Linked DNA regions of Homo sapiens. The protein of the gene in region 1 interacts with the protein of each later gene in a biochemical or structural test. Each region holds a gene or a part of one and is shown in the gene's direction. Other genes may lie near its edges.

Region 1 (7,694 bases):
AGGGCTCAGTGGGCAGCTGGGGCAGAGCCCGTGAGACCACAGCCTTCCTGGTGAGCCCGGTCTCCGCCCCCTACCCCATCTCTGGGGAAGGCGCTGACCCCATCTCTTCTCCCACGCTGCTCCCTGGCTCTTTGCGCCTGATTACTTCTCATGAGAGGCACTCCTTGTTAATGTGCTACTGAGTGTCCAGATGGGCCTGCTGGGCTGAGCGGGCTTTGGATGTGAACCATTTCAGGAAGGGGAACCCCATCGTCCTGTTGGTTCTGTGATGGCAAATGGGTGAGCTCAGATAAGCAGTTCTTGGGAGGGGCATGGTGGGGGTGGAGTGCAGGGGGAGGGGTTTCTGTTTTATGCAACAGCCTCAGCTTCTGGGAAAGGGTCCATTGTGTAAGACCGGGGCTATGGCCTGTGCCCCGTGGCTCAGGGCAGCCAGCCCAGTGGTGGCAGGAACACTGGCAGGGCAGCCTGCTGTCGGCTTAGAGGGGATGGGCAGTGTGGAGGGCCTGGCAGAGCAAGAGGACTCATCCTTCCAAAGGGACTTTCTCTGGGAAGCCTGCTCCTCGGGCCACTGCGAACCCTCTCTACTCTCCGAAGGGAATTGTCCTTCCTGGCTTCCACTACTTCCACCCCTGAATGCACAGGCAGCCCGGCCCAAGTCTCCCACTAGGGATGCAGATGGATTCGGTGTGAAGGGCTGGCTGCTGTTGCCTCCGGCTCTTGAAAGTCAAGTTCAGGTGGTGCTGAGACTCCCTGGGGGCTGCAGCGCTGTGGTGAATGGGGAGCGTCTGCTGGGGTGAAGGTTTAGGTGCACATTGCAGAGGACGTGGCTGGTCTCTGGGATGCAGTCCCTCTGTGGAGGTGGCATGGGGAGGGACGGATGCATGACCTAAGGGGGGTATTTTCAGTGTCTGACATGATCGATACCACTCTGGACAAGGAGGCCAGGATGCAGAAAGCCTGTGTGCCTCGCTGATTGTCGGGGAGGATGTGGCTTGGACAAGAGCCTGGTTCCTCCGATGCCAGGGTTCTTGTTTCTTCCACTCAACATTGCTGTCCTGCAGTCCCTCCCTCCCTGCACCTCCTGCCTTCGCTTTCATTCGAGGTGTCCATGGCAAGTCTGGTCATTTCCCCCCATTTCCTCAGGAATAAAAGTGCAGCAGTGCCTGCTGTGGGGACAGCTGAGGGCAGTGAGGCCCTGGGGAGCTGCTGCAGGCAGCAGGTGGGCGGGACGCCAGCAGGCTGTCTAGCTGTTCCCATGATGGTCTCCTGTTCTCTGCAGAGGCGTGCAAAGACTCCAGAATTGGAGGCATGATGAAGACTCTGCTGCTGTTTGTGGGGCTGCTGCTGACCTGGGAGAGTGGGCAGGTCCTGGGGGACCAGACGGTCTCAGACAATGAGCTCCAGGGTGAGTAGACCAAGCATGATGTTCCTCTGGCCACAGGGTGATGAGGTCAGAGGGCAGGGTAGCTAATTCTGCTCAGTGCCTCTCTATCAGGCCCCAGTGTTACAGACCGTTTTTATCTTGTGCACTGGGTCTGGGTGCCTGTGTCTGGGCCCACTCTGAGCCTCAGCTCCGAGGCCCCTGGTTCAGGCTCTGCGTGCATCAGACTGCCGGCATTTGCAGGCATTTCCCAAGCACTTTCGGCTGTTGCATTTCATTCAGCTCTTCCCCTCCCAGGCCCCTTAGCCCAGCTCCCAGGCCTCCTCCACGAAGCTGTGTCTGGACCACCGGAGCTCTTATCCCTCTCCCCTTTGGAGTGCCCAGAGCTTATCCCTCCTGTGAGCTGACGGTTTCTGCAGGATCATTGTTAAAAACCCAGATCAGACATGGGTGTGAGTCTGTTTCACCTCTTCTCAGCTGGGTGACTTTGGGCCACTATCTTGATCTCATGACACTCCCCCCACCCCCCATTTTATTGAGATATAATTAACAAATAAAAATTGTGTATATTTAAGGTATATGACGTGATGTTTTGAAATGCACATACATTGAAATGATGACCACTTTTTATGGTGGGACGGTGGGAAGACTTAAAATCTACTTTCTTAGCAAATTTCCAGTTATGATATGGTGTTATTAACTATAAGCACCACCTGTATGTTAGACCTCCAGAACATACTCCTCCTACCTGATGAACACTTTGACCCTTTATCATATCACACTTCCCATGTCTCCCTCTGCGAAGTGGGCACGGCGGGGGGCTGGAGCATTATGTAAACTGCACATGAAGTGTTTGGCGCAGTGCTTGGCATGGGATAAACACCAGTGAAGTAGCACTTAGGTGACACAGTGTTTCGCTGCATTTGTCACCAGTGCTATACCTTACTCATTTACTCATCTTCTTATTCCTGTCGCCTGGCACTGCATTGGAACAAAGAAATACACATATCTGTTTAAACTGAACTCTAGAAAGATTTGTGTCCAAAATAACAATATTTTATATTTTGATGCTGCAAAGCTGACACTTCTGGGTTTTTTTTTTTCCTTGCCAAGTTTCTTCTGCACCCAGCTCATTCTCCAGGGGCACATGGCAGTGGCTGGGCATAACTCTGGGTGTGCCGGCTCCCATGGTCTGCATTTCTAAGCAGTAGGGTGCAGTCAGCAAGGAGCCTGTGATGGGAGCCTGTGCCAGGGCAAGGCTGGGGCCATGCTGCTGCCTGCTGGCAGGAGTGGGGGTCCCAGCCTTGACAGCCCCTGAACTGAACGGGCCTTTCTGGCCATCCAGCTCATTCCAGGGTCCTGAGGCCACCTCTTCCTCTCGCCTCATTCTGCCTCTTGCACTTCTCTTGCAGAAATGTCCAATCAGGGAAGTAAGTACGTCAATAAGGAAATTCAAAATGCTGTCAACGGGGTGAAACAGATAAAGACTCTCATAGAAAAAACAAACGAAGAGCGCAAGACACTGCTCAGCAACCTAGAAGAAGCCAAGAAGAAGAAAGAGGTCAGGAGGAGCCGCTACCGCCTCCCTGCCTTGACCATCCCACTGGAGGGGAGGGAGGGGGTCACTGCGCGGTGCCCTGCTGGGTTGCCATGGTGACCCGCAGTCCTCCCAGGCTGTGTCAGCTGATGCTGAGGCTGCAATTAAGAAGCAGGGAAGGTTCATTTGCTTCTGAAAGCATCAGGGAGTGAGATCTTGGATCTGGTTTTGTTATGAGCCTGGCCCAGGGCCTAATGCCCAGATTCATTTCAATAGATGTTTCTAAGCCCTGATCACATGCTAGTTCCAAGCAGGCTCTGGATGGGGTGGCGGCAGGGGCCCAGACAGGCGTGGCGTCCAACCTTCAGGAAGCTTATCTAATAGGGGTGATATGGTTAGGGTTAAGGCAGGCACACAGCACCCCACGTCTTGCTAGAGTTCTGGACTACTTCATAAAGAAACATCTTAAGCCCAGTAGTGGATATAGCAGGTCTAGCCTGTGCTTAATGATTCAACAAAACTAAAACACTATAATTCAATGAACAACTTATTTAAGAAATCAAGTCTCCTTAAGAGTATCCTACAAACCTCCTCTCACGGTCGCCCTACTTCAGATGCTAAGATGTAGCTACCTGCAAGCTTCATGATCCATCGTGCATGTTAAAAGCATTTCAAAGGCTCTGAGAAGTTCTGCCGTAAAGAAACCTGTGTAACTCCATGAAACCCAGAGTTTTCCAAACTGACCAGGGAATTCATTTTTGTTTTTGTTTTTTTTTCCTGGCCGCTTTGAGCACAGCTCCATAGGAGCCACTTCAGGGATTGCTGGCCTGGATGTGGCTCTACCTTTTTTTCAAGTTTCATGCCCTTTCTTGGCCTTAGTATCAGTTCTCACCATTCTATGAGAATCCTCAAATAGCTCCTGGGGAAGGGGCATGACTTGTTCTCACATTTTTGTGGTTATCACTGGAGTTTGACATTCAACAATTCTGGTTTTATAATAAAGCACATCACATACATTTGGAGAAAAGAGCCTGCTACTTCTTAGTTGAGGAGTAGGTGAGCCAGAAGGCAAGGAAGTAGGTAGCAGGGGTGGCGCTTGTGTCTTGGCTCAGTGGGAGGTGGGTTGTCCTTGCCCAGCAGGGGACAGGGGATGATGGAGCAGGACAAAGACCTCACCTAACTCTGGGGTGTGGATAGGCTATTTTTTTTTTTTTGAAGACTAACACACTCATTCATAGAGACTTTAATATAGAAAAGTAGAAAAGGAAAAGTTTTTCCATAATCCTTTTGCCCAAGGACAAGTCACTGTTAACATTTGATCTATTTTTCCTATTATTTTCTTCTATGCTTTTTTGACAGTGGCTATATTTAAAATTATGAATTTTTAACATATAATATTCAAAATGGACTATAAACATCCTTTGTAATGATGTACCATCTACCCTTTATATGAACCATAGTTTGTTTAATCTGTCTCTTTTAAGCATCTGGGTTGGTTCTGATTTTTTTTTTTTTGCCATAAGCTAATACTGTTTCAAATATTTTTAAGTATCTTTTTCTTTGTCAGGGGATTCCTTTGAGATAGAGTCTTTGTTTTGTTTTGTTTTGTTTTGTTTTGTTTTTTTGAGACAGAGTCTTGCTCTGTCACCCAGGCTGGAGTGCAGTGGTTTGATCTTGGTTCACTACAACCTCCGCCTCCCAGGTTCAAGCGATTCTCCTGCCTCAGCATCCCAAGTAGCTGGGAGTGCAGGTGTGCACCACCACACCAGCTAATTTTTGTATTTTTAGTAGAGATGGAGTTTCACCATGTTAGCCAGGCTGGTCTCAAACTCCTGACCCCAAGTAATATGCCTGCCTCGGCCTCCCAAAGTGCTGGGATTACAGGTGTCAGCTGCCGCACCTGGCCTGAGACAGATTCTTACAGAATTATTGGGTCAAGTGGCAAGGGCCCGTTAGAGAATTTTGATAGCTGGTGTGGCTTTGGTGCTGAATGCCTGCCATTCCCTTTGCACGCCAGGAGGCATGGTTGCAATAGAAAGGTAAGATTCAGGGAGTCTGCAGCCTGCTTTGGAAGATGAAATTTAAACACCAGAAGCAGAGAATAGGAAATGAGGCTTCAGTGAGAGGGTAGTCATTGAGTAGGTGATCAGAGAGAGAGGTGGTGTCCACATGGGTTCCAGGAGTTGGGAAGCTTCTAGGAGTTAGGGAACAGTTGGATCTTGAAGGATGAGTGGATTCTTTAAGCCAGGTGGGAAGGGGATTCCAGGTGGGCGAATGAGGGGAAGCTTGAACTGGAGCAAGGGTAGGCACTTGCATGCTGGGTGGCCAGCCTATGGGAAGGCCTGCCCTGGGGCAGAGGGCCTGGCACCCAGCAGCTCTTTGAGTGCATGAGCCTGTGGTCTCTGTGTGGCTCAGCCAGCCTTGTGTCTTCCTGTAGGATGCCCTAAATGAGACCAGGGAATCAGAGACAAAGCTGAAGGAGCTCCCAGGAGTGTGCAATGAGACCATGATGGCCCTCTGGGAAGAGTGTAAGCCCTGCCTGAAACAGACCTGCATGAAGTTCTACGCACGCGTCTGCAGAAGTGGCTCAGGCCTGGTTGGCCGCCAGGTGAAAAGGGGACACATGAGTGGCCAAGGCTCTGAGTGGGGAAGGAGGGGAGCCTAGTGAAATATGCTTCATTCCGCATGCCAGATGCAATTGATTAGCATTGGCTGGCTTGCCCAGAGTGCCATGCTCCATTGGTAATGTCTGGCATGAGTAGAGAGAGTGGAGTCATCAAAAGGATGTAGGCCAGGTATCTGCCTTCTCTTAGAAAACTCATGCAGCAGTGCTTAGCTGGATGACATAATAAACTGCTTCGTGGGATGGCAGAGCCCTGTGTCCACTTATGTGGAAGGATTTAAGAATTTTTTTTTTTTTTTGAGACAGGGTCTCACTCTGTCACCCAGGCTGGAGTACAGTGATGTGATCATGTTTCACTGCAGCTTCGACCTCCTGGGTTCAGGTGATCCTCCCACCTCAGCCTCCCAAGTAGCTGGGACTACAGGCACGTACCACCACACCCAGCTAATTTTTGTATTTTTTTTTTGTAAACATGGGGTTTGGCCATGTTGCCCAGGCTGGTCTCAAACTCCTAAGCTCAAGTAATCCTCCTACCTTGGCCTCCCAAATTGTTGGGATTATAGATGTGTGCCACTATGCCCAGCCAATGTAAGATTTTGTAGTATATTAGTGTTGCTCCTGTCCTCTGCTGCAGGGCTTTTTTGATTGGGACTCAGTGAATTGCTCCAATCCCTGAAGTCACATCAGTTGGCCCTTAGCCGAGCGGGGGTGGATATCATTGGTGGCCAAAGATGACAGTGAATGAACCTGAAATGTTGGGCCTTGTGACTTTTGGGGCCTCCCAGGTGTCTCAAAACTGTCCCCCATGGAGGGAGATAAAAGGAAAGAGCATGGACCTGACAGATGGGGTGCTGGGGGCTGGTCCCAGCTGGGCTGTTGGTCACTTGCTGTGTGACTGTTACAGCCATGGGCAGGGCCTGGCCTGGCTCACCAGGGGGTGGGAGGCCAGGAGGCCGTGGCCTTGGTGAGCTTCTCCTAACTGTGCCCATGCTGGCTGTCCCAGCTTGAGGAGTTCCTGAACCAGAGCTCGCCCTTCTACTTCTGGATGAATGGTGACCGCATCGACTCCCTGCTGGAGAACGACCGGCAGCAGACGCACATGCTGGATGTCATGCAGGACCACTTCAGCCGCGCGTCCAGCATCATAGACGAGCTCTTCCAGGACAGGTTCTTCACCCGGGAGCCCCAGGATACCTACCACTACCTGCCCTTCAGCCTGCCCCACCGGAGGCCTCACTTCTTCTTTCCCAAGTCCCGCATCGTCCGCAGCTTGATGCCCTTCTCTCCGTACGAGCCCCTGAACTTCCACGCCATGTTCCAGCCCTTCCTTGAGATGATACACGAGGCTCAGCAGGCCATGGACATCCACTTCCATAGCCCGGCCTTCCAGCACCCGCCAACAGAATTCATACGAGGTGAGAAGGGGTGGAAGCTCATGGCCTTTTGAGCAACTCGTTAGATGCTGAGAACCATGCCGAGGGCTCAGCGGGTGTCATCTCGATTTTTCTCCAGCAATATCACAAGGGTGATATTATCCTTATTTAAAGAGGAAAAAAACTGAGCTGGGCATGGTGGCTCATGCCTGTGATGCCAGCACTTTGAGAGGCCAAGGCGGGAGGATCATTTGAGGCCAGGAGTTTGAGACCAGCCTGGCCAAGATAGTGAGACCCTGTCTCTACAAAAATAAAAACTTAAAAAATTAGCCGGGTGTGGTGGTGCACACCTGTAGTCTCAGCTACTCGGGAGGCTGAGGCAAGAGAGTCACCTGAGCCTGGAAGTTGGAGGCTGCAGTGAGCTATGATTGCACCATTGCATTCCAGCCTGGGCAACAGAGTGAGACCCTGTCTGTAAATTAAAAAATAAATAAAAATAACAATAGGAATCAGTGGAGTCCATCTCTGCATGGCTGGATGACTGACTCTTCTTCCCTCGTGTGTCCCCAGAAGGCGACGATGACCGGACTGTGTGCCGGGAGATCCGCCACAACTCCACGGGCTGCCTGCGGATGAAGGACCAGTGTGACAAGTGCCGGGAGATCTTGTCTGTGGGTGAGTCGGGGTCCAGACCACAAGCCGTCCCCCCTGATCCCTTGTGTCCTGGGGTCACTGGGGCCTCACTGGTGCTGCCTTTATGGAGTCAGACAGATAAGCGTT
Region 2 (7,748 bases), on another chromosome or scaffold:
CCTGGCTAACACGGTGAAACCCCGTCTCTACTGAAAATACAAAAAATTAGCCAGGCGTGGTGGCAGGCGCCTGTAGTCCTAGTTACTGGGGAGGCTGAGGCAGGAGAATGGTGTGAACCCGGGAGGCGGAGCTTGCAGTGAGCCGAGATCGCGCCACTGCACTCCAGCCTGGGCGACAGAGCAAGACTCCGCCTCAAAAAAAGAAAAAAAAAAAAGAACGTAGTTGGTCAGATGTGCTACAGGGGACTTTGAATTGACTATCTAGCCAAAAGTCTTATTTCCTGGCTCACACAATACTGTGGAGGCGGGGGCAGAGGGGACACTCACCTGTCCCCAGGAGCCAAAATGGCACTGACTGGTCTCCAACTTAGGGCCTGGGTGAAGGTCTTCTCCACCAAGGCCAGGTGCCCAGGTTTCCCAGCTTGGGCCAGCTCAGCTGTCACAGGGGACCAGTAGCCTATTGGCCTGCTGGTCAGAGTGGCTGGTCCCACATCACATGGCACTACAGCCGAATGTTCATCTGCTCAGCTCCATTGCCTGCTAGGGAAGATGATGGTTCTTCAAAGAGTCCTTGGTTAGTGTTACAGCTCTGCAGCTTTGATTACCGTAGTGCTGATGGCTGTCTTGCTGTCTCTCGTCAACTGCTGCCTCTCCGTCTCACCAATCATCATCCTGCTGACCGCTGATCACCATCTGATATCGTTTGGGTGTGTCCCTACCCAAATCTCACCTTGAATCGTAGCTCCCATAATTCCCTCGTGTTGTGGGAGGAACCCAGTGGGAGATAATTGAATCATGGGTGCAGTTTCCTCCACACTGTTTTCGTGGTAGTGAGTCAGTCTCATGAGACCCGATGGTTTTATAAGGGGAAACCCCTTTTGCTTGGCTGTCTCATTCGCTCTGGTCTGCTGCCATGTAAGACTTACCTTTTGCCTTCCACCTGATTGTGAGGCCTCCCTAGCCATGTGGAACCGCCCATTAAACCTCTTTTTCTTTCTTTCTTTCTTTTCTTTTCTTTTCTTTTTTTTTTTTTTTTCACAATCCAGAGGTCTTTTATTTTTTTAACACCTCTGATGCCATGAATTCATAGGGAAGAGTTTCCAGCAGCTCAGCCTCCTTCCCATTGGTTCTCACAAAGCATGCTTCTCTGGGTGGAGCAGGCTGGTGCTTCAGTTGAACCCAGGTACCTTTCTCTTTGGCTTCTTTCTGTTTCTGATTATTTTCCTTCACACATTTCAGGAAGCTATCTCAGCTCTTAGCATGCTTAATGCGCTCAATGCACACATTAATTCTCTCGGCATGAATCTTGCCCTTGTTTGTTTACAACAATGCCAACAGCATGCTGGGTAACATTGTAGACTCTTCCAGTTTTGCCACGGTAACCCTTGTGGTCCATTCCTTTTTGAACAGTACCCATTCCCTTGATGTCTACAATATCACCTTTCTTACAAATTCGCATATACGTGGCCAAAGGAACAACTCCATGCTTTCTAAAAGGCCTAGAGAACATATATTGGGTGCCTCTCCTCTTCCCCTTTGCGTTCATCATTTTGGCAAATTACTGGAAGATGGCAGTTACGGCCAAAAGGCACCTCTTTTTCTTACAAATTGCCCAGTTTCAGGTACGTCTTCATCAAGCAGCGTGAAAACAGACTAATATACCACCTCTCTGTCTTTCTTTCTTTGCCACCACTCCACCACTCTCTGATCACCACCTCTCTGTCTCACTGACCTATCACCGACGGGCGCCTCTTGCCACCTTACCAGTTGCCGTCTTGCTGTCTTGCCATCCCTTGCTGTTTCACCTCTCTGCCAATCACCAATTGCCACTGTCTCTGCTGTCTTACTAATTCTTCAGTGATCCCCACTGTCTCACTGTCTCACTGGCGATCACCATCGGCAGATCGGCAGTGCTGCACCAGTCACTGCCGCTTGCTCACTGTCTTTGTTCCTTCAAGGTCACCAAATGTTGCAGGACAGGTGAACCCCAAAATTGGGGCTTAGCTGGGGAGGGTTCTTGGCTTCGCTCTGGAAAGAATTCAAGGGTGAGCCAGTGATGTCAGACAGAGATTTTTTTTTTTTTTGAGACAGAGTTTCACTCTTGTTGCCCAGGCTGGAAGGCAATGGCACGATCTTAGCTCACCGCAACCTCTGCCTCCCAGGTTCAAGCGATTCTCCTGCCTCAGCCTCCTGAGTAGCTGGGATTATGGGCATCAGCCACCATGCCTGGCTAATTTTGTATTTTTAGTAGAGACAGGGTTTCTCCATGTTGGTCAGACTGGTCTTGAACTCCCAACCTCAGGTGATCTGCCTGCCTTGGCCTCCCAAAGTGCTGGGATTACAAGCGTGAGCCACCTTTTGTTTGTTTGTTTGTTTGTTTTTGACATGGAGTCTCACTCTGTCGCCCAGGCTGGAGTGCAGTATTGCAGTCTCGGCTCACTGCAACCTCTGCCTTCCAGGTTCAAGTGATTCTCCTGCCTCAGCCTCCCGAGTAGCTGGGATTACAGGCATCAGCCACCATGCCTGGCTAATTTTGTATTTTTAGTAGAGACAGGGTTTTACCATGTTGCTCAGGCTGGTCTCGAACTCCTGACCTCAGGTGATCTGCCCGCCTCAGCCTCCCAAAGTGCTGGGATTACAGGCGTGAGCCACCGGTTTTGTTTGTTTGTTTTTGAGATGGAGTCTCACTCTCTCGCCCAAGCTGGAGTGCATTGTCACAGTCTCAGCTCACTGCAACCTCTGCCTCCCAGGTTCAAGCAATTCTTCCGCCTCAGCCCCCTGAGTAGTTGGGACTACAGACACGTGCCATGCCTGGCTAATTTTTTTTGTATTTTTAAAAGAGATGGGGTTTCACCATGTAGCCAGGAGGGTCTCGAACTCCTGACCCTGTGATCCGCCCACCTCAGCCTCCCAAAGTGTTAGGATTACAGGCGTGAGCCACCATACCTGGCCTTAGACAGATATTTTTTATGTAATGATACTGCTCCTTGTGAAGCAGGGCTAACTCATAGGCAGTGCACCCAGAGTCAACAACATACAAGCTCTTGGCAGCTGTAGTTATACTCATGTCAACTCACTTTCAGTTATACGTCAGTTAAGGGGTGGGTCAATGCAAATTGAGGAGCAGGTTCTTTAGAAGTTTTAAGGAAAAGGGCGAAGATGTCCAGGTTGTTTCCATGGAAACAGGTGGGAACTTCTAGGTCATTGCCATGGCATCGGTAAACAGTCATGGCACTGGAGGGAGTATCTTATGCCCACGAGCAATGAGGCAGCCAGGGATTGCTTTTGTTGCCATCTGCTGGTTCCTGCTGGTTTCTTCACATCATCTCATCTGGACCAGATTCTGTATGGGTCTGCAGGGTTGTGGCCAGAAAACAAGTTCTTCCAGTTTCCTACCTCATTACCATGTGAAATGTTACCATTAGGAGAAACTGGGTTCACATTAGGGATCCCTAGGTGAGGGATTTACATATGGGAAATCTCTTTCCTACATTTGCAACTTTGCTATAAACCCAAAATTATTCTAAAATTAAAACATTTTAAAAAAGAATACAAAGTAAAGATCAGGTCGAAAACCACTATTTGATTATGATACATGTATGTATTTTCCATCTTTAAACTGAGATTTAACACACATGTGGTAAATGCACATCTCTATGATCAAAATATAGAACATTTCCAGCATACAGAAACCCCGTTGTCAATCTCCACCTGCTCCTTCCTGATAATTCCCATTCTGAGTCTCCTTCAAAGGTTAGTTCTGCCTGTTCTCAAAATTCACACAAAATCAAATCTTACAGTGTGTACTCACTCTGTCTGGGTCCTTTTACTGTTTTGTGAGATTTATCTATGTTATTAAATGTACTAGTACTTTGCTTTTTCATTGCTGTATAGTATTCCAATCTTTGAATATGCCATTATATTTTTTATCATTCACCTGCTGGTGGACACGGGGTTGTTCCAATTTCAGATCATTCTAAATAAAGCTGCTATGGATCTTTTCTTTCCTCTTTGATACTATTTCACTCTTTGGTTAACAGCATGCACTGTGGAGGCAGACTGGGTTCAAGTCTCAGCCCCACCATCTACCAGCTGTGTGACCTTGGGCCAGTTAGCTAAACTTGCAGTGCCTCCTCAGTTTCCTCATCTGTATAATGGAGGTCATATGATCTACTGAAGGGTAGGAACATTAAATGAATGAGTTTATAAAGCTGTTGGAAAAGTACCTGACTACCCTAGGCATTAAATAAACAAGCAATTATGATTCTGCCCCAACTCCCAAAGTCAGCAGGAATTCCCAAAAATGAGGACAGCAGCAGCTCAAAGCAGGAAAGCCAGGAGGTCACAGGGGACAGTGCTTCCAGGAACTGGGGGTGCTACCTGCCTACCCTTGCCCTAGTGGAGGGGGTGTAACACAGTAGCTTTCTCTTACAATTTATCAGATTTCATTAAAAGCATCCCACTGCTCAGCCATCCATGAGTGGATGAGTCCTTCTCCCTGTCAACCCCAGACCATCCCCCACTGCCTCCCTGAAATTCTTGAAAGATCCGGCCCATCTCATGCTCTGATGCTTTCCACTAGTCTTTTGGATGACAGATCCCTACCCAACTTCCTGTTTCTCTTTCTGTGGGAGACTAGATTTAGGAAGTAAAGATCACAGGGTGGGAAATAAAAGCTGTGGCCCCCAGGAGTTCTGGACACTGGGGGAGAGTGGGGTGACATGAGTGACTCCAAGGAACCAAGACTGCAGCAGCTGGGCCTCCTGGGTGAGGCTGGGTTGGGACGCTGGGATTCTGGGAAGGGGGAAGGGATGGCCAGCCATGGCCTCAGCCTGCCCAGGCTCTGATTTCACGTCTATCCATTCAGAGGAGGAACAGCTGAGAGGCCTTGGATTCCGACAGACTCGAGGATACAAGAGCTTAGCAGGTAGAGAGGACTTAGCAGTTTGGGAGGAGAGACGAGAGACTCCTGGACTCCTGGGTCCTGAGGAGCTGGACGCTGGGGCCTGGACTCTTGGGTCCTGGGGATGTGGGGCTAGGGGCCTGGACTCCTGGGACCTGAGGAGGTTGAGTTTGGGGCCTGAATTCCTGGTTCCTGGGAAGGTGGAGGCTGGGGCCAAGACTCCTGGGTTCTGGGGAGGTAGAAGTTGAAGCCTGGGTTCCTGGGTCCTGGGGAGGTGGGGTCAGGGGCCTAGACTCCTGGGTCCTGGAGAGGTGGGGGCCTGGGCCTGGACTCCTGGGTCATGGGGAGGTGGGGACTTGGGCCTGGGTTCCTGGGACCTGGGGATGTAGGGGCTGGGACCCAGATTCTTGGGTCTTGGGGAGGTGGGAGCAGGTACCTGGGTTACTGGGACCTGGGGAAGGGGAGGCTGGGTCCTGGGTCCCTGGGTCCTGGGGAGGTGGGAGCTGGGGGCCTGGGTTCCAGGGACCTGGGAATGTAGAGGCTGGGGCCTGGATTCCTGGGTCCTGGGGAGGTGGAAGCAGGTACCTGGTTCCTGGGACCTGGGGAAGGGGAGGCTGGGGACGGGGTCCCTGGGTCCTGGGGAGGTTAGAGCTAGGGCCTGGATTCCCAGGTGTTGGAGTGGAGGGGGCTGGGGCTGGGGTTCCTGGGTCCTGGGGTGCTGAGGGATTTAGACCAGGCTCTCCCTGGGCCAGGCTCCGGTGGGGACACTGGCAGGCTGACGCATGTATCCTCTCTCAGGGTGTCTTGGCCATGGTCCCCTGGTGCTGCAACTCCTCTCCTTCACGCTCTTGGCTGGGCTCCTTGTCCAAGGTCAGGGGCAGGTTCTGAGGGTCTGGGGTCCCCACGCCTGGCTTTTGGCTGTGGACACAGCCTGGGGCTGCCAGATCTGGGAGGGAGGTGGGACTGAGAGCCAAGATGTTGTCCCTGGGGGTCTGTAGGGGCCTCTCCCACAGCCCCTCCCCACTCTAGGGCAGGACAGGAGAGGGAGGAGGAGGAGGACAGGAAGAATCTGGCTCTCCTTGGCCTTCTGTGCTGCCTTCTCCAGGTGTCAGTTTTCTTCATCTTCAAAGGGGATTAACCAAGACCTTGGCTCTCACAAATGATGTCCCTATGGGGCTCAGTTCAAGGCTTGGCACACAGTAGGTGTTTAATAATTGCAGTTCCTTTTTTTTCTTGGCCCAGTGTCCAAGGTCCCCAGCTCCATAAGTCAGGAACAATCCAGGCAAGACGCGATCTACCAGAACCTGACCCAGCTTAAAGCTGCAGTGGGTGAGCTCTCAGAGAAATCCAAGCTGCAGGAGATCTACCAGGAGCTGACCCAGCTGAAGGCTGCAGTGGGTGAGCTTCCAGAGAAATCTAAGCTGCAGGAGATCTACCAGGAGCTGACCCGGCTGAAGGCTGCAGTGGGTGAGCTTCCAGAGAAATCTAAGCTGCAGGAGATCTACCAGGAGCTGACCTGGCTGAAGGCTGCAGTGGGTGAGCTTCCAGAGAAATCTAAGATGCAGGAGATCTACCAGGAGCTGACTCGGCTGAAGGCTGCAGTGGGTGAGCTTCCAGAGAAATCTAAGCAGCAGGAGATCTACCAGGAGCTGACCCGGCTGAAGGCTGCAGTGGGTGAGCTTCCAGAGAAATCTAAGCAGCAGGAGATCTACCAGGAGCTGACCCGGCTGAAGGCTGCAGTGGGTGAGCTTCCAGAGAAATCTAAGCAGCAGGAGATCTACCAGGAGCTGACCCAGCTGAAGGCTGCAGTGGGTGAGTATCTGGAACCAGGGCTTCTTGGGCCTGAGATGGTCGTTGTGTGGTGTGAGTTTGCTTGAGTCACTGACCCTGCCTGAGCAAGTTTCCTCATCTGTGAAATGAGAACACAGGGTAACTGTGATCATTGCCCTCAGTGTTCACAGTGGGCCAGGTACACAACAGGCACTCAGTTAAGCCAGTCTCCTGCCTTCTGTTCTGAGTTCTAAAGCCCCAACTTCTCCTAGTCTGGAGGAGATGGGGCCAGGACTCCTGGGTTCTCATGGGGATGGGGGAGGGTCTCGGGAAGTGGGGAGGGGAATGGTCTACCCGGCGTGGACAGTCAAGGAAGGACTCTGACTCTCAAGACCTTGAAGGCTGGGCAGGTACAGGAATATGGACAACCTAATCTAAGCCCAGCCCTGACCAGCCTCCCCCAACAGAACGCCTGTGCCACCCCTGTCCCTGGGAATGGACATTCTTCCAAGGAAACTGTTACTTCATGTCTAACTCCCAGCGGAACTGGCACGACTCCATCACCGCCTGCAAAGAAGTGGGGGCCCAGCTCGTCGTAATCAAAAGTGCTGAGGAGCAGGTACACCTGGTGGGGGTCCCCGTCCTGGCCTAGGGCATGGCTTCTGGCCAACTGGGGAGGAGGTGCTCAGAGATGACTTTGCAGAAGAGGGGTTTTGCTCCACTTGGAAAGAAGGGAGGAGAAGGATATGAATGAGGGAGTCTCAAGTACCCTTAGAGCAGATACAAACCAAATCTGAACATGTGTGAATGCTCCGGAAAAAAACATCAAATGTAAGCAAACCCCTGCAGCATGCTGCAAGAGGTTAACAACCAGCTCTCTGGAGGAAGAAGTCCTGATGGGTCGTGTTTGCCAGTTTCCCTGGTGTAAATATTCCCATGGTGGCTGATTTCAAGCTGTCGTTGTGATGTCACTCAGTGCAGAGCTGAAAGGAGATGTGCATGACCAGCAGTTAGGAAATGGTTGCCTCTGGCTCCAACACATTAAGCCCAGTTATGAGTAAATGTGCATGGACAT
Region 3 (7,694 bases), on another chromosome or scaffold:
AGTTGAGAACGGTGAATAGGAGTATGACTAGACAGAAGATAGTAGGGATGACAAGTTTTTTGGGGTGCAGTCCAAGTTGGTCTGGTGTCTGGAATGAGACTGGGGCTTAATAAAAAGGAGCGTCTATACAGGAGCTTAAATGGCTGTACCCTGTAGCATTCTGAGGACAGGCCTGAATTCTGAGAAGGGCAAGTGGTAAAAGTATTGTCCAGTCCTTTTTAAGTTGGTGGCTGAGCTTGGTGAGGTGTGTTTTTAAAAGACCATTAGTCCATTCTACCTTTCTTGAAGATTGAGGACCGTAAGGGGTATGAAGGTTCCACTGAATACCAAGAGCCTGAGAAACTGCTTGGGTGACTTGACAAGTAAAGGCCGGTCCACTGTCGGACTGTATAGAGGTGGGAAGGCCAAACCGAGGAATTATGTCTGACAGAAGGGAAGAAATGACCGCAGTGGACTTCTCAGACCCTGTGGGAAAGGCCTCTTCCTATCCTGTGAAAGTGTCTACCCAGACCAAGAGGTATTTTAGTTTCCTGACTTGGGGCATGTGAGTAAAGTCAATTTGCCAGTCCTGGGCGGGGGAAAAACCCCGAGCTTGAGGTGTAGGGAAGGGAGGGGGCCTGAGAAATTCCTGAGGAGTAGTAGAATAGCAGATGGAACACTGAGAAGTGATTTCCTTGAGGATAGATTTCCACAATGGAAAGGAAATGAGAGGTTCTAAGAGACTGGCTAGTGGCTTGTAACCTACATGGAAGAGGTTATGAAATGATGACAGAATAGAATGGGCCTGTGAGGCTGGAAGGAGATATTTTCCTTGGTCTAAGAACCATTTGCCTTGTGTGGGAAGAGATTGATAGGTGGAAGTTTCAGCGGGGGACTAGGTGGGAGTGACTAATGTGAAGGAGAAAAACTGACTGTGAGGGACAGAAGTTGGAACGCTAGCTGCTTTTTTAGCTAATTTATCAGCATAAGCATTGTCCTGAGCGATGGGATCTGATGCCTTTTTGATGGCCCTTGCAGTGAATGACTCCAGCTTCCTCTGGAAGTAAAGCGGCTTTGAGAAGCGTTTTTATTAAAGACGCATTAATGATAGAGGACCCTTGTGTAGTGAGGAAACCTCTTGCATGGTGGTGCAGGATATGGAAGGCATATATAGAGTCAGTATAAATACTGACATGTAGTCCCTTTGCAAGAGTGAGGGTTTGACTTAAGGCAATGAGTTCGGCTTGCTGAGAGGTAGTGGAGCGGGGCAGAGCGGTAGCCTCAATGATAGATGTGGAAGATACTATAGCATAGCCTGCCTTTGCTGGTGAGTGGCGATTAGGCCTGGTGGAACTGCTATCAGTAAACCAAGTGTGTTCAGGGTGAGGAACAGGAAAAAAGGAAATATGGGGAAATGGGGTGAATGTCAGGTGGATCAGAGAGATACAGTCATGGGGGTCAGGTGTGGTATCCGTAGTAATGTGGGAGGCTGGATTGAAGTCTGGGCCAGAAACAATGGTAATTGTGGGAGACTCAACAAAGAGTGAGTACAGCTGAAGGAGCTGGGGAACAGACAGTATATGCGTCAGGTGGGAGAAAGAAAATAGATTTTGGAAGTTATGAGAACTGTAGAGAGTGAGTTGAGCATAGTTTGTGATTTTTAGGGCCTCTAAAAGTATTAAAGCAGTGGCAGCCGCTGCACGCAGACATGAGGGCTAGGCTAAAACAGTAAGGTCAAGTTGTTTGGACAGAAAGGCTACAGGGCACGGTCCCGGCTCTTGTGTAAGAATTCTGACTGCACTAACCATGCCTAGGAAGGAAAGGAGTTGTTGTTTTGTAGAAGGGATTGAGGTTTGGGAGATTAGTCAGACTTGATCAGCAGGGAGAGCATGTGTGTTTTTATGAGAATTATGCCGAAATAGGTAACAGATGAGGATGAAATTTGGGCTTGACTGAAGTAATGGGGGCTGTCTGTGAAGCTTTGCAGCAGTACAGCCCAGGTAATTTGCTGAGCCTGATGGGTGTCAGGTTCAGTCTAAGTGAAAGTGAAGAGAGGCTGGGATGACGGGTGCAAAGGAATAGTAAAGAAAGCATGTTTGAGATTCAGTCCGTCATCTTTAAGAAGAGCTGGGAGATGAAATAGGAATATAGGTGAAGGGAATAACTTTACATAAGGTCTGCATCAATAGCCCCAGCGCCACTTTTACTGCTTGTCAACTGCGAACATGTATCTCCTTTGTCACAACAACTATGGCCTTAGTGACAATGAATAACTGTCATTGTTAACACCTAATGCTCCTTTTGAACTCGAGATATGGCACATTTTAATACAGAAACTAGAAATGTTTATTTTACAAATATTTTGTGATTTTAAGATCGGAAATGTTTAAATCTTGAAAGCATTTTCCCTGATCCTCTGATAAACAGATATGAAAACTTTAATCACATGATAAAAGAGATACGACATTTCATTTGACATCTTCACTTAAAATAAAATGAGGCCATGTATACAAATGCATATCCAAGTTTCAGAATAAACAAGTAATGAATGTGAAAATATAGGAAAAGGAGTGAATTGTCTACCTTGTAGTTTATTATGCATTCATGGTAATTTGGTCTTAAAAGGGAACCTTGGAATTGTATGAATGTTATAGAAAAATGCGTAGAAGATTATTAATTCTATCATTCTCATCTTTTCAAAAATTCAACCTCTTTTTAGTAGTACTATGAAATCTTAATTTCCGAAGATAGGATTTATTAATATTCAAAGAAATTATTAAGATCCAAAGATAGGATTCTCAGTTCATCAGTGAGGTTGGGGAATTATTCTTGCTGTTCTTCTAGGATTTGGCTTCCAGTATATAACTAGAGTATGATTATCCAAAAATTTGGTCAACAGTGGGAGTAAGAAGGTATAGAGAATACAGTAGAAATTGCTAGTAATAAGTGAGAGTGTGACCAGTGAGGGATGTATTTGCCTCCCAGGATTAAGGTATGAGGTGACTTAGTGGTTGCTGCTCTTGATTTTGGGGCGGTGGGAGTGATGTTTAGTCCTGGCCTACTGGGTCATGCAATAAAAATGGTGCCTGATGATGTCTGTGGGAGAACAAGATGGCAAAAAGAGCCAGAGTTGGTACAAACTTTACAGCAAATTTATTTACTACTAAATTCTTTCAAAATTGGGTAAAGGCCTTTAACATGTCCACAGGTGACTGTATCTGAAAATGTGGATAATAAGAATTATGGAAGTCCCATAAACCCTTCTGAGATAGTTCCAGAGACAAACCCAACTTCACCAGCTGCTGATGGAACTCAGGTAACAGTTGCCGACTCCTGAAATAATGTGGGATTTGGAAAAACTTTGGGATGACTGGGTTTTTATTAACCTTAAGCAAACAAGGGAGATTCTGGAAGGCTCAAAGATCTCAAGATGTGTTGACAGTTAATAAATATAATTTTTTAAAAAGTCATAGATTGAAAAACTTTCCACCAAATAAAGCTACATTCTAACATCGAGTTGGGAATAATGTTCCTTGTAACATAGGAGGACATGTCACAAAGAAGAACAAATAGACTTCTGGATCCAGTATCTTCAGACCAGAGACATTTAAGTTGAGAAATTGACTCAGTATGAATAAAGATTTCACGGTGTCAAAGATACAGATGAAAGATCCGTCTGTGTGTGCCGTGATTTCTCTACAGCATGCATCTTTATTCTTTCAAGCTGTTCTTCGCTCTCCTGCTATTACAGATCTTTACCACTAGATGGCACTAATTTTTCCATTCATCATCCATCTATTCATTATTGGCCAACCAATCATCTAACTAACGTTATTCCCCTCGATGTGTCAGGGATGGTGTTTAATACTGGAGATTGAAAGAAAAAAATGCCACTAGATGGAGCTTCTTAAACATGCCTGCAGGTCCTTTGCAATTGGTACACTATTTGGTCTGCAGGAAGAAATTCAATAAATATATTTGATATTAAACTCTGTATTAATGTATATCATTAGTTTTAATGAATGCATTTGCAGCTATACCAGATATAGCTGTTTGAATCTGGACAAACTGTTTTACTTCTGGGGCTAGAGTCCTCAATAATATTTCTCACTGGGGGCGCTATTGGCATATTGAGTGGGACAGTTCTTTGTGCTACAAAACTGTCCTATGCACTCAGGGAATTTCAGTATTTCTGGTCCCTGTCCACTAAATTCCAGTAGTGTCTCCCCTAATTCAGTGTGACCCCAGAAATCACCTCCCCTCCCCAACACATGTGCACTCACTCCTGGTTGAGAACCGCTAGGATCTGGAATGTCTCTGTTCTAAGATTCTATGACCAATTTTGTGAAGTAATGTAAAGAAATGAAAGTCTAAGAGTAGTTGGAAATTTTACCATTTTATACAATCTTTATTTCTCAAATTTCATAGTCTATAAACATTGATATCTTGGTAACTTGGCAGTCTCATTATCACCTTAAACATTGGTTTCTGTTCTGCTGATTTAAATCAAAATAAAATTTGACCTAAATTGATGCTGAGAAGAGTCTATATCAAGGCTTCTGTACACCTTCTCAAATTCCCTTATTTCTTCTTCTCATGTCACACACACACACACACACACACACACACACACACTCATACACTCACAGACATACATAAATATTGTCTAGAAAGGAATTTTCAGTTTCAGATTTTTCAAGGGACTAAACATTTTTTCTTTAAGCTATATTAAAAATGGATTTTGAAGATTAATTTTCCACAGACACACGGATGCTTGAATGTCATATATTTGGTCCTCCAAGCCTGAGTCAACCCCAAGCTAGTGCCAGATTTATTTTATATTTTCAACATTTTTTCTCAGTCCATCTCTAGTCTAGTGATCTTCTTCACTAAATAGACATTTTCCCCAGCTGGTGCAGGAAGGGGACTGTGGTGGGGAGGCTGTAACCTCTGATCTGCATGTCTGTTATCAGAAACAAAATGTAAACTGACAGTCTCTTTCAAAGGAGAGCAGATCTTCACCAATTGTAGTCCTTTCTTTCTCTTCCCTTTTGTAATACCTTGGTTCCTCCTCTTACTTTTTTACATTAGTGAGGCTGAGACCCTCTAAAATGTGTCTTCCATGTTATGTCCAGGGATCTCACTGTATTTCTTCCCTCCTGGGCACTGAGTTAACAGCCAGCATGCTTTAAAAGCAGTAGAGGCGCTTGGGTGAGATCACCTAGGTTGATTTGAATATGCCAGAGTCCCACAAATGTATCTTTCATCCATAAATATGTTGAAAGACTAACAATTAAAAACATGGGCTGGGCACGGTGGCTCACACCTGTAATCCCAGCTCTTTGGGAGGCCGAGGTGGGTGGATCATGACATCAGGAGTTCAAGACCAACCTGGCCAACATAGTGAAACCCCATCTCTACTAAAAATGCAAAAATTAGCTGAGTGTGGTGGCATATGCCTGTAGTCCCAGCTATTCAGGAGGCTGAGGTGGGAGGATTGCTTGAACCCGGGAGGCAGAGGTTGTAGTGGGCCGAGACTGTGACACTGCACTCCAGCCTAGGCGACAGAGTGAGACTTCATCTCAAAAAAAAAAAAAAAAAGATTCAGTTCTATCATTTTCCAAAAGTTACATTGATATGCATAGGATCCCCCAAGGAGACAAAAATGAAAGTCACCGTCCCTTTCCTCTTGTTAGTAATTGCTTAACTTCAAGTTAGCCATTTCATTTTGAAGCAATGACATCTAAGAGACTTTGGCCCGCCCCACTTAACTGTAAGCGCCCAGAGGCAGGGCTCTGACCTGAATGTCTTCATGTTCCCCTTGGGGGCACTATGTACAAAGCAGGTTCTCACTTGAATGTGGGTTAAAGTGAAGACCTCTTCTACTTCTGTAGCCCTGTGTTCCCCACTCCTCCACAGGCTGGTCCCCTGCTGTCACAGAGTAAGAGACACCCCATAAAACCTGTGGGCTCCCTCAGCTCCTGTTGAGAGTAGGCTGTCTGTTCCCTTGTCTCCCACCAGGTTTTTATCTGGCAGTCAGCATGACAGGCAACTTTTCAGTAAAGCGTGGGCCACGCACCATGGTCCAGGGTGATTATCTTTGGGTTCTCCAGTTTATGGGCCTCTGGGTCCCCTGAGTAATCATTACCTGCCCTTCTACCTGCAAGTTAGTTGTATAATCTTGCTGTGACTCAGCAAGTATAGGATAATAAGTGTACCTACCTCTGGGGTTTGTTAAAAAAAATCAGAAACTTGTAAAACTCTTAGAATAGTTCCTGACACATAGTAAGCACTCAATAAATGTTAGATGTTTTTGTTATTATTATTGTGACACAGGAGGGAATGATGAAGGGAGAAGGGATACTCTTGAGTTGACCAAAGAATGTTACTTTAGGGAATAAGAGTTACAGTTTGGCTTTGCCATCTCCACCCAATTTTCAGGCAGCCCCAGAAATCTCTTTTTCTCCAGATGCATCTTGTGCATGTCTGTTTTATGTGTTCTCTCTGTACTGAGGTAACCAGGTGATTTGCTTGTAGATACTATGGCACAAATTCTATAATATATAAATTTGAAGTCAAAGAAGTGTTTAAAACCATTCGATTAAAAGAGCCCAGAGTTTCAGTTACTGTTCAGGGACCATAGGAGGAATTGAACAATTTACCATATGGGCTGAATCACATGGTCCCAGGTCCCAAATTGCTTTACCCTTCAGTAAGAAGAAATTTTAAAACTGAGACAGGAGGAAAAGAAACCCACAAAATAATTCCATTACTGAGAGGTTTTTGTTTTCCCCTTTTCATTTAGGTGACAAAATGGAATCTCTTCAAACGAAAATCTAAACAAACTACCAACTTTGAAAATCCAATCTATGCACAGGTAATTTTTAACAATTTTTCTTAGCACAGACATTTTTTCTTAGAAATTATTTGCTTGGTTAAATTGGACACACACTTAGATTATTCTGAGCAGAGTGGCCACAAATAGTCTTCTTTATGAAAAACCGTGTATGGTGACCTTGGGGGAATAAATGGCTGATTCCTGTTACATTGTATTCTTAGATGGAGAACGAGCAAAAGGAAAGTGTTGCTGCGACACCACCTCCATCACCTTCGCTCCCTGCTAAGCCTAAGCCTCCTTCGAGAAGAGACCCAACTCCAACCTATTCTGCAACAGAAGACACTTTTAAAGACACCGCAAATCTTGTTAAAGAAGACTCTGAAGTATAGCTATACCAGCTATTTAGGGAATAATTAGAAACACACTTTTGCACATATATTTTTTACAAACAGATGAAAAAAGTTAACATTCAGTACTTTATGAAAAAAATATATTTTTCCCTGTTTGCCTATAGTTGGAGGTATCCTGTGTGTCTTTTTTTACTTATGCCGTCTCATATTTTTACAAATAATTATCACAATGTACTATATGTATATCTTTGCACTGAAGTTGTCTGAAGGTAATACTATAAATATATTGTATATTTGTAAATTTTGGAAAGATTATCCTGTTACTGAATTTGCTAATAAAGATGTCTGCTGATTTGGTTGGTGATCATTATAGTAAATGATCCAACAAGAAAAGGAATTGACTGGGGACCTTTAGCCGTGTCTAAAGAAGAGGCACCACTCATATTTCCTATAAAATTATCTAGGAAAGGAATCCAGGCCCCGCTCTTGGGTCCATTTTTACACATTAGCACTTAATTAATGTTCAA
Region 4 (7,694 bases), on another chromosome or scaffold:
AGATAAATCTGAAGAGGAACATGGAGGTAGCTCAGTTCAGTATATTCATTTTATAGAAGAGAAGAAGTACATGAGAGTAAACACTTACTGGGAACCAGATCTGATTCTCAGTTTTCTCTTTTGCTTGAATTCAACCGAACTCATATTTATTAAATTCTTACTACGTATAAGGCACGATTTTAGGCACTGAGCAGATAAGTGAAAGACACCAAATTCAGCCACTGCCTTGTGCCTTAGGCATTTACAGTCTGGTTGAAGATAAGGAATGAAAGAAAAAAATAAGAGTATAAATGCTATGCAAATCACAATTCAGATCTCACCCAAGAGCAATGTGGATTAAATGCTTGGGTCCTTTGAGGCAAAAAGCATGACACACAGGAGGATAGTTTGTGGTTTGTCTTAATGTGATGGGAGGCCTTCATCCCAAATTCCCCTGTATTTAAAACTATAAAAAAGAAAATATCCTGGCAGCTCTACTATTTGGTGAAGCTGAAAAAGATAAATATTCAAGTAGAGTTCTGGAAAAGGGGAAAAAAGCAAATGAACAAAGAACAAAAACAAGCCGTCCCTTTTCAAAATGTCATCTTGCCATGAAAGCTTCTTCAATTCGTTACCTAGAAGTGCAAATGTATTGAAAGTTTTACTCATTAAATAAGATTATTTTGAAGCTAAAGGCCAAAGATCCTACTTACTTTGGAGAACAGTGTTGAATCCAGCCCAATCTCTCCTTTCAGCCCAGGCATGTTTTAGTACTGGGATGTTTTCTATCTTTTTAAGTGTCCTGTGCTCTGTTTACACTATATTAATCTGCTCATTTAAATTGGTGTTTTGTTTTAATGTTTGGCCAGAGTTTATGCACTGCCACTTTGGAGAGAATCTAAGATTCATTCATTCATTCATTCATTCACTCACTCAACAAAGCATTTGTTGACAGCCTGTTGGCATGGGAGACCCTTGCAATTGGCACCAAGAATACAAGAATGAGAAAGGGACTCAACTTGCACCCAAATGCTCACAGTCCAGTTAGGTGAGAAAAATAAGCAGGTGAATATATTAAATAAAATATGGTATATGCACGAATAGAGCCCTGCCCAGGATATCTAACCAAGATTGACCCTAAGGATGTTCAAGGAAGTTTTTATAAAGAATTTGACCTTAGTTGAAGCCTGAGGCCCCGGTGAAGGGTTACCTCCTCCTTTATCATTTTCTTTATTGAATATACCATCAGAGGAAAATTATCGTTTTAAAATTTTGTTGATGTTGTTAATCTGTCCCCTCTGTCTTCCCACTAAAACAGCATTTCTCAACCTTTTTTAAAATCAGTGATATCGTAAGGAGCCTTTTTAAACAACTTTTTTTGTTTGCTTGTTTTGTTTTTTATTTTGTATAGATAGAGGATCTCGCTATGTTGCCCAGGTTGGTCTCAAACTCCCGGAGTCAAGATATCCTCCTTCAGCCTCCTAAAGTGCTGGGATTACACACATGAGCCACAGCACCTGGCCTGTAGACAACTTTTTTTCTAAACACTACTCTCCATGATGTTTTTCTGTAGCAAAATAGGCATAATATAAAATGTACCATCTTAACCATTTTTAAGTGTACAGTTTACTGGCATTAAGTACCTTCGCAGTGCTCTACAACCATCACCATTATTCATTTTTCTGTACTGAAATTTGCTCAACTGAAATTCTTTACCCCTTAAAGGATAACTTTTCGTACCCTTTCCTCCCAGGTTGCCCCCTGGACAACCACCATTATACTGTCTCTGAATATACCTGTACAAGGTACTTCATACAAGTGGAATGATACAATATTTGTCCTTTTGTGTCTGGCTTATTTCACTTAGCATAATGTCTTCAAGATTCATCCATGTTGTAGCATGTGCCAGAGTTTCATTCCTTTTTATGCCTCAATACCTACATGAAATTTAATACCACATTTTAAATCTCTTTGTATACTCTGGGCCTTTGGAGGCTCACAAACCATTGTAATACATAAGATTTTTCCACTTCCCAAGAACCAGTTTCACCCTTTTGCTGCAATATCCCCCTGTAGAAAATGCCTGTGTTAAAACCTAAGCTCCGTGACCCTCTCTATCTTGTTGTCCACTGTGTCCCCCAGCGTAACACCTAGCACATTTTAAGTACTCAACAATCATTTATTGAATACTTCTCTAGCCCTTCCCCAACCACTCCTTCCTTCTTATCTTAGCCATTATTATTAAAATTTGCTCTTAGAGTAATTACGTATGTATTTGTTACTTAGTGCTTCATGCTCCCCAGCCAGGCATCTCACCATGCTCATTTCCTTTGGCTGCACATGCCATTCTCAGTGACCCTGTGTTTGCTGGCTTTCTTCACAGAAGTAAAAGATTATGAGCCTCCATTTGGTTCCAAGGTGCGGGAGCACCCCTGTGTCGAAAGCATGAAGGACAACGTGTTGAGAGATCGAGGGCGACCAGAAATTCCCAGCTTCTGGCTCAACCACCAGGTAAGGAGTGAGTGTTTACAAAGGTCAGTAAGATTCAACCAAGTTGCCTCTTAGGTGGCAGAGAATTCTGGAATATTGAGCTTAAATCTGAGGGAAGGTCCCATTGTGTTCTATGGCCCTGTTAAATTTTGTTTATAAAGCAAATTTCAATACAGTGGATAACCCAATTATTATAGGCTCCAACCAGCTGATATGTACTCTGAGAGTTCACAAATAGCCATTCGGAGGACATTTGCCACATTTTCCAAGCCCCCTTGGTCCTGGGTTAAAACATTTTGTTTGCAGCCTCTGCTACTTACTCCTGGGCCTTCACGTCAGGAGTTTATATTTGATTCCCTCTGGATTCCAAATGTTTTCTTCTGGGAATCTTCAGCTCCATAAGGAAATACTTAGCAGATGCAAAACAAGCAGGGTTTGTCAGGCAGCTGTAGTGAGAAGTGACTGTGGCATGCAGAAGGCTGTGTACAGGTGTTTGCAGGCTGTGCTCACAGACTTGGGAGAGGCCTGAGTGAGCACGCGTGGGAAAGAGGAGACCGACTCCTCACTCTGGAATTAAGGAAAGCAAAGAAGAGGAGAATGCCCTGGAAGGAACGAGAAATCTGTCTGTTGGGAACATCCTAATGGCCTCTTATTTTTCCTTGTTAAGAAATGCTAGCTAAGGCTGTCCATAGCAGGGCAGTCATTCTGGACTCATAAAGAGGCTGATCCAAATTGTTTGTTTGGGGGCACTTTGATGAGGGCAATGGTCAGAGAAAAAAGAAAACGATAGGTTGTGAGTGAGTCAGAACCAGCTATATGTCTGACACACCCAGGAAGGAGCCCTTAGTGAAGAATGAGAGAGAACAGTGTGGCCCTATCTCACTGAGAAGACTGTTCTTTCTACTGACTAAAACCTTTTATTGCCTCTTTTGGATGAATTCCCTCAACCATGAAGGCCGAGGCTAAGTTGTTGGTTTCCCTAAGGGCAAGGCAAATTCAGATAAGAAACAGAAACAACAAATCAGGCACAATCGGGAAGACAAATGGAGCAGGAAGTCTGGTCTGTGCCAGTCCTGGCCCAGAGCCACTTCAGCAGACAGACCTTAATAAAGTCCGAGGAGGTTGGCGAGGGGGAACCAGGCTGTGGTGGGTCACAGGCTTCTCTGGAGTTTTGAGCAAATCCTCTTTGACACTAAAACTGTAAGAATATTTTGCATAAATTCTGAAATCAGAATGTGCTGGAGTGTTATGTTTCTTTCAAACTCTGTTGCCTCCTCTGCTGTATAGTTCTCGTAATGATGCCATTATTCATGATGATAAAATTCTGAAAAGAATTTGCATAATACATTTTTTCTCATAATGAGATTTGTTGCCCTATTGATTTCAAGTTAATGCTTAATATTTAATTTAATTTACTGCCTGTAATTACAGTGCCAGAATAAAATAAATGTTACTTGTGTACCAACAATAGCACTCTACTCTTAACAGGGCCATCTGTCAATACTGTCAATTAGGTGAATTATGCAATTAATTTAACATCATGAACTCATCGGGTGGGGAGGGAGAGATAGGCTCCTAGGTGTGTTTGGAAAGTTGTTGGTATTAGAAAACAAGTAGAAAAAGTGCCAGCTCTCCCAGGTAGTTTTGAGATTTATCCATCCCACTCCCAGCCACCTGTGTGAGGGATCCCATTAGCAATGTTGATCTTACAATTGGGAGGAGCACACTCTATTTCCACCTATCAGACCATTTACTTAACTCCTGCCTGCTTTATTTCCAAAAAGGATTTGAAATGATAACAAAAATATTTGCAATGCAAAATAAAAATTAAGCCAGTGAGAGAAAACTCTTGCCACCTTCCTGGGCAGGATCTCCTGGATGGTCTCCTTGGATGGGAGCTTGATTCGGTTAGGGTGAACCCTAGGAAATGGCATAGAGTTAAGCATGCCTGACCCACATAGGCAGCTGTTTCACAGGGTTCAACCCAATGTTGTTGGAGAGGAATGGAGCATCCCAGAGGTCATCCTTGGCAGCTCGTAGAAGCTGCTACTGAATCACTCTACAAAATGTGTGGCCTATAGAAAATGAAACCATGCTAATGCCTGCATACAATTCTGACGGGGGTAATCAGCCCTGTTAAAATAGAACAGTGTATATGACCCAACTATATGACACTCTGGAAAAGGCAAAAACTACAGAGACAGTACAAAATCAGTGGCTGCCAGAAATTTAGGGGAATGGAGGGAGGGATGAATAAGTGGAATGCAGGGAATTTGAGGGGCAGAGAAACTATTCCGCATGATACTATAATGGTAGATACATGTCATTATACATTTGTCAAAACCCCTGGAATATACAACACCAAGAGTGAACCCTAATGTAAACTATGAATTTGATTGATAATGATACGTCAGTGTTAGTTCATCAGTTATAACAAATGTACCTCATAGATGCATGCATGATGTCAAGGTGGAGAAGGCTGTGCCTTTATGGGGAAGGGGTTTTGTGAAAACTCTCTGTACTTTCCACTCAATTTTGCTGTGAAGCGAGAACTTCTCTAAATAGAAAGGTGTTGAAATGATATTAAGGGCCACTACATGGGGAATTTTCAGGTGTTGGGAGTGTTAGTGTACCCCAGAAGCCCAGCAGAGGATCATTGTGCTGTCAGGACCTATTGTGATCAGATAGCACCAGAGCCAAAAAGTATGGTAGGTTTTGAGCACAGCTGCCACCAGCACAAACCCCCCACCACCCTTTCCACATGGAACTGGCTGGCCTGCAGCAGCAGGCACTCAGTCAGCACATGTTAAATGCACAGGCACTTTTGGACCCTGCTTGCACTCACTATAGCAACAAGGTCAGCAGGCCACCTTGCCTTCCGCGGAGCCCACCAACTCATGGTGCCCTTTGGATCTCTTTCCCGCTACAGGGCATCCAGATGGTGTGTGAGACGTTGACTGAGTGCTGGGACCACGACCCAGAGGCCCGTCTCACAGCCCAGTGTGTGGCAGAACGCTTCAGTGAGCTGGAGCATCTGGACAGGCTCTCGGGGAGGAGCTGCTCGGAGGAGAAGATTCCTGAAGACGGCTCCCTAAACACTACCAAATAGCTCTTCTGGGGCAGGCTGGGCCATGTCCAAAGAGGCTGCCCCTCTCACCAAAGAACAGAGGCAGCAGGAAGCTGCCCCTGAACTGATGCTTCCTGGAAAACCAAGGGGGTCACTCCCCTCCCTGTAAGCTGTGGGGATAAGCAGAAACAACAGCAGCAGGGAGTGGGTGACATAGAGCATTCTATGCCTTTGACATTGTCATAGGATAAGCTGTGTTAGCACTTCCTCAGGAAATGAGATTGATTTTTACAATAGCCAATAACATTTGCACTTTATTAATGCCTGTATATAAATATGAATAGCTATGTTTTATATATATATATATATATCTATATATGTCTATAGCTCTATATATATAGCCATACCTTGAAAAGAGACAAGGAAAAACATCAAATATTCCCAGGAAATTGGTTTTATTGGAGAACTCCAGAACCAAGCAGAGAAGGAAGGGACCCATGACAGCATTAGCATTTGACAATCACACATGCAGTGGTTCTCTGACTGTAAAACAGTGAACTTTGCATGAGGAAAGAGGCTCCATGTCTCACAGCCAGCTATGACCACATTGCACTTGCTTTTGCAAAATAATCATTCCCTGCCTAGCACTTCTCTTCTGGCCATGGAACTAAGTACAGTGGCACTGTTTGAGGACCAGTGTTCCCGGGGTTCCTGTGTGCCCTTATTTCTCCTGGACTTTTCATTTAAGCTCCAAGCCCCAAATCTGGGGGGCTAGTTTAGAAACTCTCCCTCAACCTAGTTTAGAAACTCTACCCCATCTTTAATACCTTGAATGTTTTGAACCCCACTTTTTACCTTCATGGGTTGCAGAAAAATCAGAACAGATGTCCCCATCCATGCGATTGCCCCACCATCTACTAATGAAAAATTGTTCTTTTTTTCATCTTTCCCCTGCACTTATGTTACTATTCTCTGCTCCCAGCCTTCATCCTTTTCTAAAAAGGAGCAAATTCTCACTCTAGGCTTTATCGTGTTTACTTTTTCATTACACTTGACTTGATTTTCTAGTTTTCTATACAAACACCAATGGGTTCCATCTTTCTGGGCTCCTGATTGCTCAAGCACAGTTTGGCCTGATGAAGAGGATTTCAACTACACAATACTATCATTGTCAGGACTATGACCTCAGGCACTCTAAACATATGTTTTGTTTGGTCAGCACAGCGTTTCAAAAAGTGAAGCCACTTTATAAATATTTGGAGATTTTGCAGGAAAATCTGGATCCCCAGGTAAGGATAGCAGATGGTTTTCAGTTATCTCCAGTCCACGTTCACAAAATGTGAAGGTGTGGAGACACTTACAAAGCTGCCTCACTTCTCACTGTAAACATTAGCTCTTTCCACTGCCTACCTGGACCCCAGTCTAGGAATTAAATCTGCACCTAACCAAGGTCCCTTGTAAGAAATGTCCATTCAAGCAGTCATTCTCTGGGTATATAATATGATTTTGACTACCTTATCTGGTGTTAAGATTTGAAGTTGGCCTTTTATTGGACTAAAGGGGAACTCCTTTAAGGGTCTCAGTTAGCCCAAGTTTCTTTTGCTTATATGTTAATAGTTTTACCCTCTGCATTGGAGAGAGGAGTGCTTTACTCCAAGAAGCTTTCCTCATGGTTACCGTTCTCTCCATCATGCCAGCCTTCTCAACCTTTGCAGAAATTACTAGAGAGGATTTGAATGTGGGACACAAAGGTCCCATTTGCAGTTAGAAAATTTGTGTCCACAAGGACAAGAACAAAGTATGAGCTTTAAAACTCCATAGGAAACTTGTTAATCAACAAAGAAGTGTTAATGCTGCAAGTAATCTCTTTTTTAAAACTTTTTGAAGCTACTTATTTTCAGCCAAATAGGAATATTAGAGAGGGACTGGTAGTGAGAATATCAGCTCTGTTTGGATGGTGGAAGGTCTCATTTTATTGAGATTTTTAAGATACATGCAAAGGTTTGGAAATAGAACCTCTAGGCACCCTCCTCAGTGTGGGTGGGCTGAGAGTTAAAGACAGTGTGGCTGCAGTAGCATAGAGGCGCCTAGAAATTCCACTTGCACCGTAGGGCATGCTGATACCATCCCAATAGCTGTTGCCCATTGACCTCTAGTG

The links.
Region 2: the proteins of CLU (region 1) and CD209 form a complex in vitro, tested with the Homo sapiens proteins (one study listed by BioGRID).
Region 3: the proteins of CLU (region 1) and LRP2 form a complex in vitro, tested with the Homo sapiens proteins (3 studies listed by BioGRID).
Region 4: the proteins of CLU (region 1) and TGFBR2 form a complex in vitro, tested with the Homo sapiens proteins (one study listed by BioGRID).

Annotation. Positions count from the first base shown.
Region 1 is NC_000008.11:27,604,186-27,611,879, reverse strand, and holds part of CLU (clusterin isoform 1 preproprotein), read left to right. Parts: intron 1-128; exon of another isoform or gene 129-279; intron 280-508; exon of another isoform or gene 509-734; intron 735-1,128; exon of another isoform or gene 1,129-1,279; 5' UTR 1,280-1,308; coding exon 1,309-1,405; intron 1,406-2,793; coding exon 2,794-2,942; intron 2,943-5,355; coding exon 5,356-5,526; intron 5,527-6,544; coding exon 6,545-6,956; intron 6,957-7,484; coding exon 7,485-7,589; intron 7,590-7,694.
Region 2 is NC_000019.10:7,744,485-7,752,232, reverse strand, and holds the start of CD209 (CD209 antigen), read left to right. Parts: upstream 1-4,698; 5' UTR 4,699-4,721; coding exon 4,722-4,767; exon of another isoform or gene 4,768-4,867; coding exon 4,868-4,927; intron 4,928-5,701; coding exon 5,702-5,773; intron 5,774-6,145; coding exon 6,146-6,715; intron 6,716-7,140; coding exon 7,141-7,292; intron 7,293-7,748.
Region 3 is NC_000002.12:169,128,175-169,135,868, reverse strand, and holds part of LRP2 (low-density lipoprotein receptor-related protein 2 precursor), read left to right. Parts: intron 1-3,187; coding exon 3,188-3,295; intron 3,296-6,784; coding exon 6,785-6,856; intron 6,857-7,038; coding exon 7,039-7,206; 3' UTR 7,207-7,694. UniProt on the Homo sapiens protein: Multiligand endocytic receptor. Acts together with CUBN to mediate endocytosis of high-density lipoproteins. Mediates receptor-mediated uptake of polybasic drugs such as aprotinin, aminoglycosides and polymyxin B.
Region 4 is NC_000003.12:30,686,022-30,693,715, forward strand, and holds part of TGFBR2 (TGF-beta receptor type-2 isoform B precursor), read left to right. Parts: intron 1-2,362; coding exon 2,363-2,490; intron 2,491-5,398; coding exon 5,399-5,578; 3' UTR 5,579-7,694. UniProt on the Homo sapiens protein: Transmembrane serine/threonine kinase forming with the TGF-beta type I serine/threonine kinase receptor, TGFBR1, the non-promiscuous receptor for the TGF-beta cytokines TGFB1, TGFB2 and TGFB3.